2 linked regions of the Homo sapiens genome follow. The protein of the gene in region 1 interacts with the protein of each later gene in a pairwise test. Each region holds a gene or a part of one and is shown on either strand. Other genes may lie near its edges.

Region 1 (4,160 bases):
ACCTACTCAAGAAGCTGAGATAGGGTGGATCACTTGAGCCCAGGAGGTCGAGGTGAGCCATGATTGCTCCACTGCACCCCAGCCTAGGCAGCAGAGTGACAGCCTGTCTCAAAAAATAAATACATAAATAAATAAAATTAATTAAAATTATAAGGGAAAATATATTTTACCACTTATTAAGTGGAAATAGTTCATCATAAAGATCTTCATCCTCATCATCTTCACATTGACTGGGTGGAAGAAGAGGAAGTTGTTTTTCTTTTTTTTTTTTTTTTTTTTTTGAGACAGAGTCTCTCCCTGTCGCCCAGGTGCAATGGCGTGATCTCAGCTCATTGCAACCTCTGCCTCCCGGGTTCAAATGATTCTCCTGCCTCGGCCTCCCGAGTAGCTGGGCCTACAGGCGCCCGCCATCATGCCCAGCTAATTTCTGTATTTTTAGTAGACACAGGGTTTCACCATGTTGGCCAGGCTGGTCTCTAACTCCTGACCTCGTGATCTGCCTGCCTCGGCCTTCCAAAGTGTTGGGATTACAGGTGTGAGCCACCGCGCCCGGCCTAAGCATTTTCAAATATGACTGATTTATAGAAAATAAGTGTTTTCGTAGTTTTATTACTGATGAGAAAGAAAATAGAGGTGTTTGTTTTATTAGTCTTTTCACGGTAAATGTATAACTTAAAACATTACGTTTTCATCAAAATAAAAGAAATCTCTAATATTTAGACACTGTGCCCCTGCTTTTCTCCTCATTTGAGTTTTATTCAGTTTTCTCTTTCAGGGTCAAGTTTTATGCAATTTTCTATTTCAGGGTCATGGGACTGGCTTGCTCCAGAGCTGCCATATTCTTTATATTCTTTTTTTTTTTTTTTTTTTGAGACAGACTCTCACTCATTGCCCAGGTTGGCACAATCTCAGTTCACTACAACCTCTGCCTCCTGGGTTCAAGCAATTCTCCCACCTCAGCCTCCCGAGTAGCTGGGACTACTGGCATGAGCCACCATGCCTGGCTAAATTTTTTGTACTTTTATAGAGACAGGGTTTCGCCATGTTGGCCAGGCTGGTCTTGAACTCCTGATCTCAAGTGATCCACCTGCCTCAGCCTCCCAAAGTACTGGGATTATAGGCGTGAGCCACTGCACCCAGCCTGCCCTGCCCTTTTATGGTGGTGGTGATGGTGTTTTTTGTTTTACCCAGATTTACTGGAACTGAGTTATGGGGGTTTGTTTGTTTGTTTGTTTGTTTGTTTGAGATGGCATCTGGCTCTGTCATGTCATCTGCATGCTGGAGTGCAGTAGCACGATCTCAGCTCGCTGCAACCTCCACCTCCTGGGCTCAAACCATCCTCCTACCTCAGCCTCCCAAGTAGCTGGGACTATAGGCATATACCACCACACCTGCCTGGCTAATTTTTGTATTTTTGGTAGAGACGGGTTTTTACCATGTTGCCCAGGCTGGTCTCAAACTCCTGGGCTCAAGTAATCCACCCACCTCAGGGTCCCAAAGTGCTGGGATTATAGGTGTGAGCCACCACTCCTGGTCCATATTTTTTTTTTAAGCCAAAAAAATATTTTCTATTCCTCTTTTCTCTCTCCTCCCTTATAATATCGTCTCTTTTTCTTTCTGTTATTGAGCATACATCACCAATTACTAGTTAAGGATCAAATAGCAATTTCATGTGCCTTTCTGGTGATATCTAAATGACATTCAAAACCTCTTCTTGTGATTTTGAAAACAAAATAAATAAATGCACTTTACAACATTTTTTATTCCATCATACTTTTCAGAAGTTTTCATTTATGTATTGATATGTTCATTTTTACATTGAAGGAAAGACCAAGAAGTGCAGTGGAACAGCTCTGTTTGGCTGAAAGTACTCGACCAAGGATGACTGTGGAAGAGCAAATGGAAAGAATAAGAAGACATCAACAAGCGTGCCTGAGGGAGAAGAAAAAAGGGTTAAATGTTATCGGTGCTTCAGACCAGTCACCCTTACAAAGCCCTTCAAATTTAAGGGATAATCCATTTAGGACTACTCAGGTATATGAATTGCATTTGATTATTATTTTGTGTAAATCTAGTATCACTGAATTTTGGAATCAGAGTTACATGATTGATAGGTCTTAAAAGGTCTGCAGTATGGATACTTATTTTATATTATTTAATTCTCCTAATAATAAGCTAAGACAGCTAAGTAAAATGTAAATAACCCTGAGTTCAAGAGACCAGAGCTAAACTACATGTTGGATGCCCGTGGACTAGTTGTGGACTTAATGTCTTCAACTTTACAGTGATGATACAGCTGCCCAGACTCCTTAGAGACACTAAGAAAATAAAAGGGTTTTCAACAAATGTAAAATGCTATGCAGGTTACCAAGATAGTCCCCAATTCCCCTCTCAATAAAATATGTATTGCTCTGTGTCCTGATTTAACATGACCTAAATTGTAGCAGGAGAGAGCTTCTAAATAAAGTTCCAAGTGTGCTGTCCATCACCTCTCAACTTCAGGCTTATAAAGTGATGCCATTTTGTTTCTTTTTGTTTTTTGCCCCTCTTTATAAATTCAGAGACAGCAGCCTAGCCAACCTGTTCAGTAGCTTCTGTCTGGTCTTTCCCTGTTTGTAGACACTTGTCACCTAGCAATAGTATCTTAAAAGTTTGTCTATAATGGCATAAACTGAATGCATCAGCTGAACATGCTTTCCTGTCCTAATGAATATCCCCTCTTTCCACCGAATCAAGTGCAGGCATTGCTAATGGAGACTAAACAAAGCAACAGTTTGAATTGTGGCACATTCTGCAAATTACAAAATGAATGGTTTTTTTTAAAAGAGTTGAGAAAAATGTGTGGAATAGTGCTATATATATAAATTTTCTTTGTTAGTTTTCATAGGAAAACTTCTTCATGAGTGGAGATCCAGCTTTGTTCTATTTTGAGAATTAACAGGCACTATTTATAAAATATACATGCATGCACAGTATGAGTATAAAAATGCTATATGTCTTTTGAGCAGACTCGAAGGAGGGATGATAAGGAACTGGACACTGCCATTAGAGAAAATGATGTAAAGCCAGACCATGAAACTCCTGCAACAGAAATTGTTCAACTAAAAGAAACCGAACCCCAAAATGTGGACTTCAGCAAAGAGGTAGCGAGATTATTTTATGAAAGGTATTCCAAAGGAATAGATTTGTGAAGATTAAATCAAGTGGTAAGGTTGAAAATAAAGTGTGTTTCTTTCAGTCACAGAGTCCATAGAGCTAAATGAAAAAATAAGCTTTCTGGCCGGGCGCGGTGGCTCACGTCTGTAATCCCAGCACTTTGGGAGGCTGAGGCAGGCGAATCACGAGGTCAGGAGATCGAGACCATCCTGGCTAACACGGTAAAACCCCGTCTCTACTAAAAATGCAAAAAAAAATTAGCCGGGCTTGGTGGCAGGCTCCTGTAGTCCCAGCTACTGGGGAGGCTGAGGCAGGAGAATGGCGTGAATCTGGGAGGCGGAGCTTGCAGTGAGCCGAGATCGCGCCACTACACTCCAGCCTGGGCGACAGAGGGAGGGAGACTCCATCTCAAAAAAAAAAAGAAAAAGGAAAAATTAAGCTTTCTTTAGTTTGATTGATGTATTCAGCCACATCAAGATATGCATTAATTGACTGGGCACGGTGGCTGGTGTGTGTAATCCCAGCACTTTGAGAAGCTGAGGCAGGCGGATCACTTGAGCCCAGAAGTTTGAGACCAGCCTGGGCAACATGGTGAAACCCTGCCAATACTGAATACAAAAATTAGCCAGGTGTGGTGGCATGCACCTGTAGTCCCAACTGCTACTGGGGAAGCTGAGGTGGGAGGATCACCTGAGCCCAAGTCGCAGTGAGTAGAGATGGGCCACAGAGTGAGATCCTGTTTCAAAAAAAAAAACAAAAAAAACGTGGCGGGCACAGTGGCTCATGCCTGTAATCCCAGCACTTTGGAGGCCAAGGCGAGTGGATCACTTGAGGCCCGGAGTTCGAGATCAGCCTCGCAAACATAGTGAAACCCCATATCTACTAAAAAATACAAGAGTTAGCCAGGCACAGTGACACATGCCTGTAATCACTACTTGGGAGGCTGAAGCAGGAGAATCGCTTGAACCCGGGAGTCAGAGGTTGCAATGAGCTGAGATCGCGCC
Region 2 (3,830 bases), on another chromosome or scaffold:
CGTCGCAGCAAGACTTCGTCTCAAAAAAAAAAAAAGAAAGAAGATAGGCCAGATAACAGCAGGCTCTCAGTATCTGCAGTATCTGCAGTGGGGATTGGTTCCAGGACCTCCCATAGATAGCAAAAGCTATTGTTGCTCATGTCCCTAATATAAAATGGCATAGTATTTGCATATAACCTATGTGTATGCTTTAAATCCCATATACTTTAAATCATCTCCAGATTACTGATAATACCTAATGCAATGTAAATGCTATAAAAATAGTATGCTGTATTGTTTAGAGAATAATGAAAAGAAAAATCTGTACCTTTTCAGTACAGACACAATTTTTTTCCCCCAAATATTTTCAATCCACAATTGGTTGAACCCATGGATACAAAGGGCCAGCTCTCCTTGAAATCAAGTAAAGAAGCCAGAGGACACTGGAGAAAGGTAGGGAGGAGAGCGAGTGTTTTTGTCAGTGCTTCCCAAAAGCCAGTAGCTGCATCAGAATCACCTCAGCAGCTTTAAAAAACAAAACCAACCAACCAGACACTTCTAAAGATCTGATTTGTTGCTGGCTGTGATATTGCATGCCTGTAGCTCCAGCTACTCAGGAAGATCTCTTCAGCCCAGGAGATTGAGTCCAGCCTGGACAACATAGTGAGACCTCATCTCTTAAACAAACAAACAAACAAAATTCTGATTTTATAAAAGAGCGGGGGGGAGTCCTAGAACCTTTTTTTTTTTTTTAAAAAATACTCCTTAATGTTGCTTCTGATATACAACCAAGTTTGGGAACCAGTTTTATTCTCATCACCTGCTCTCTATCTCTGGCTCTAAATAGGAGATAGTAGTTAATTTAGACCTAATGAGTAGCTAACATAATAGGGGGTGTGTCTAGGCAGAGGATGAGATAAGAGCCCGTTGAACCATCCCACAACCTGCTCCAGTATCTTTTTCTCGAAGGTACTAACAACAAGCCCAAGAAGTTTCAGGGAAAGTGTATACCTGTTTCTGCCAGCAGTTTCACATTTATTCTTGACCAAGATACTGGGAAGGCTGTCTCTCTTGAGGCTTTCTTAAGATGCATTTCTTGTAGTGGGATGTATAATTTCAGCACAGATCTGGCAGTGGCAGAGGTCTCTGGGTATGAGATCACTAATCCTCAGCTACAGAACTCAGGCAAGATCCCCAAAAGTCTGTTTAACCATTTTGGTTAACCAGATATCCTAAATTTCTGAGGTCAATGGCAGTCATCTGATTTGATAGAGAAAGAAATTGAAGTGAAAAGGGCATTGTGGTCATCTGAAGTTATAAATGACAGTGACTGAAACTCTGGCCCAGGAAGTGCTGACTTTTAACATTCTCTGAGAATGTCCTAAGATGATAGGATGAATAAAGGGTATCTCACCGTCCAGGAACAGAGGATAGAGGGGTTAGTTATAGGGGACTTCTTACTCCTCCAACCCCTTCCCTGTGGACTGACCACACTTGGTGGTTTAGGTATAAATGCAGCCTCTTAGGTGTTTTCCAGCTGTTTTGTTGCCATGGCAGCGTGTTTGTTATGCCACTGTTTCCTTCTGGCCTCTCACAGCTCAGTTGCTAGTCTCTGTTTCAGGATAGGGTATTAACTATCTGGGCAGCAGCAGCTAGTAGACTTCTTCCTCCATCCAAGAGACTAAGCCATTTAGTTCCCTAGTCTCCCAGCTACTGTAGATGCTTACCTCTGCCTCTGATATTCGATCCTTGGAAGTCTTATTTTTCCAAGAGTTTGGTCTTCTCAACTATTTCCTATAGAAGCAAATTTCCTTTCACCAGGAATGTGAGGTATAGTCAGGTTCTCCTCTTTAGTTTCCCTCCATTCATCTCCTTTGATACAGCTAGAAAGCTCTCAGCTCTTTCCCCAAGAATCATCAAAAGAGGGGAAATCACATAAAGACTGGGCAGATGGTGGGTGCAGATTTAGCTGAAGAGTTCAGATCTTTGAGAAGGAGGTGCATTCATGACAACCAAGGTTAGATGATGTATTGAGATGGGCCTATCCTTTGGGCCTCTTTCAGCATAAGCTTTCAAGCATTGCTTTTAGGGGAGGGGCCACTATGAGTCTTAAGTCATAAACGGGGATAAAGGAAGGAAATAAAGATTGTAAAAGGAGAGGAGGTTAATAGAGGTGTATATAGAGTAGGAACCCCAACAGTTAAGATCCCAGGTACCCACCCCTATGAAATTTACGCATGAGCCCTTGAAGGAAGAGGGTGACCAGTGGGACTTATGAATGGGACTAACTCCTCATGACCACCTGGTATTTCTCCGTGAGGTTTTTTGCTGTTGGAGACTGACTCCTAGGTGGGAGCAGCTGCTATGGTCATTACTCAGCTTCAACCCAAGGACCCAGATGCTTGGTTATTGGTGATCCTGCTTTAACTCTTAGATGAATGATTTGATGTCTGTAAAATTGTACCTTCCTTTTAAACTTAATTTTTATCTTACAGCAGCAGCCAGTAAGGAGGAGAAGGGGAGAGAGCTCATTTGATATTAACAACATTGTCATCCCAATGTCTGTTGCTGCAACAACTCGCGTAGAGAAACTGCAATACAAGGAAATCCTTACGCCCAGGTAGAAGCTCAGAATAGTTGGCTCCTCTCCCCATTCTTCCTGCTATTGCCCTTTTTCCCTCTTCTCTTCTGACCAAGAGTTGGGCCCTAGTCTTTGGTTCTGTCTTCTCATTAAGAGAAATTCTTATCTGATAAGAACGAAATTATTTCTGTATATAGTTCTCTCTCATTCCATTATAGGAATACACCAAACGAACCAGCAGTCACAGCCTGGTAGGCCATTCACTTACTGGTCTAGAGACCGGTTTTGTCAACACATACAGTATGTTTTAAAATACTGAATTTGTTGTCAACATCAAAGCAGGATTTCACATAAAAATCTTTGTTTCCAGCTTTTGTTGCCAAACAGAAGATTAGGCAACCCTGGGTATGCATTTCCATATGGGAGCAATCAGCTGGTCCTGAACAGTGGTGGTCCTCTTTAAACAGGTTTCTTTTCTTGTGTTTGTCACAGTCTCTCAGCCTCAGCCTTACCCTAGGCCGCTTCTCTCATTTCTGGCCTTCTTGGGCATTTGAGTAGGTGGCCAATTTCACAGGCCTTGACAGGGTAGGGAGACTGAGCTGTGATAGGGCAGAGCCTACCCGGCAGAGAGCAGTGTCACCCACAGGTGCAGGATTCTCATCCTTGCATGGACACTTTGACCCTGCCCCCAGTTTTAGCCTGCTTGCCATCTCATGATTGTCTGTTCTTGGTTTTGCAGCTGGCGGGAGGTTGATCTTCAGTCTCTGAAGGGGAGTCCTGATGAGGAGAATGAAGAGGTAATGGCCTGGTTCTTCTGTTAGAAGAACACGTGTGTACACATGCACACATACATATGAGTGCACACACCCTAAATGGCCTGAAGACTTGTGGGTGTGAAGTGCAAGCTCCTTGTATTCCTGTCGTGACCGGGAAGAACCTAGAATGGGGTGGGACTGGTTCTTAACTCCTGGAGAAAAGAGGGGATCGATGAAGCTGCTCTATTGCAGATTGAGGACCTATCCGACGCAGCCTTCGCCGCCCTGCATGCCAAATGTGAGGAGATGGAGAGGGCACGGTGGCTGTGGACCACGAGTGTGCCACCCCAGCGGCGGGGCAGCAGGTGATGGGGCAGGCTTGGGTCCCCAGGGCCTGTGGAGAGAGGGTGGACAGGGAGTTTGGGCCCTACTTGAGTCCATGGAATTGCTACTGCCTCTTGGTTGCTCATCATACTCATCTACTGGCAGTGGCAAATAGCTCAGAATTTCCTTGG

Evidence for each region. The genes of interacting proteins can lie anywhere in the genome.
Region 2: the proteins of PLEKHA5 (region 1) and KANSL1 interact in a two-hybrid assay, tested with the Homo sapiens proteins (one large-scale study listed by BioGRID and IntAct).

Annotation. Positions count from the first base shown.
Region 1 is NC_000012.12:19,356,404-19,360,563, forward strand, and holds part of PLEKHA5 (pleckstrin homology domain-containing family A member 5), read left to right. Parts: intron 1-1,824; coding exon 1,825-2,034; intron 2,035-3,008; coding exon 3,009-3,143; intron 3,144-4,160.
Region 2 is NC_000017.11:46,032,930-46,036,759, reverse strand, and holds part of KANSL1 (KAT8 regulatory NSL complex subunit 1), read left to right. Parts: intron 1-2,474; coding exon 2,475-2,599; intron 2,600-3,299; coding exon 3,300-3,357; intron 3,358-3,567; coding exon 3,568-3,680; intron 3,681-3,830. UniProt on the Homo sapiens protein: Non-catalytic component of the NSL histone acetyltransferase complex, a multiprotein complex that mediates histone H4 acetylation at 'Lys-5'- and 'Lys-8' (H4K5ac and H4K8ac) at transcription start sites and promotes transcription initiation.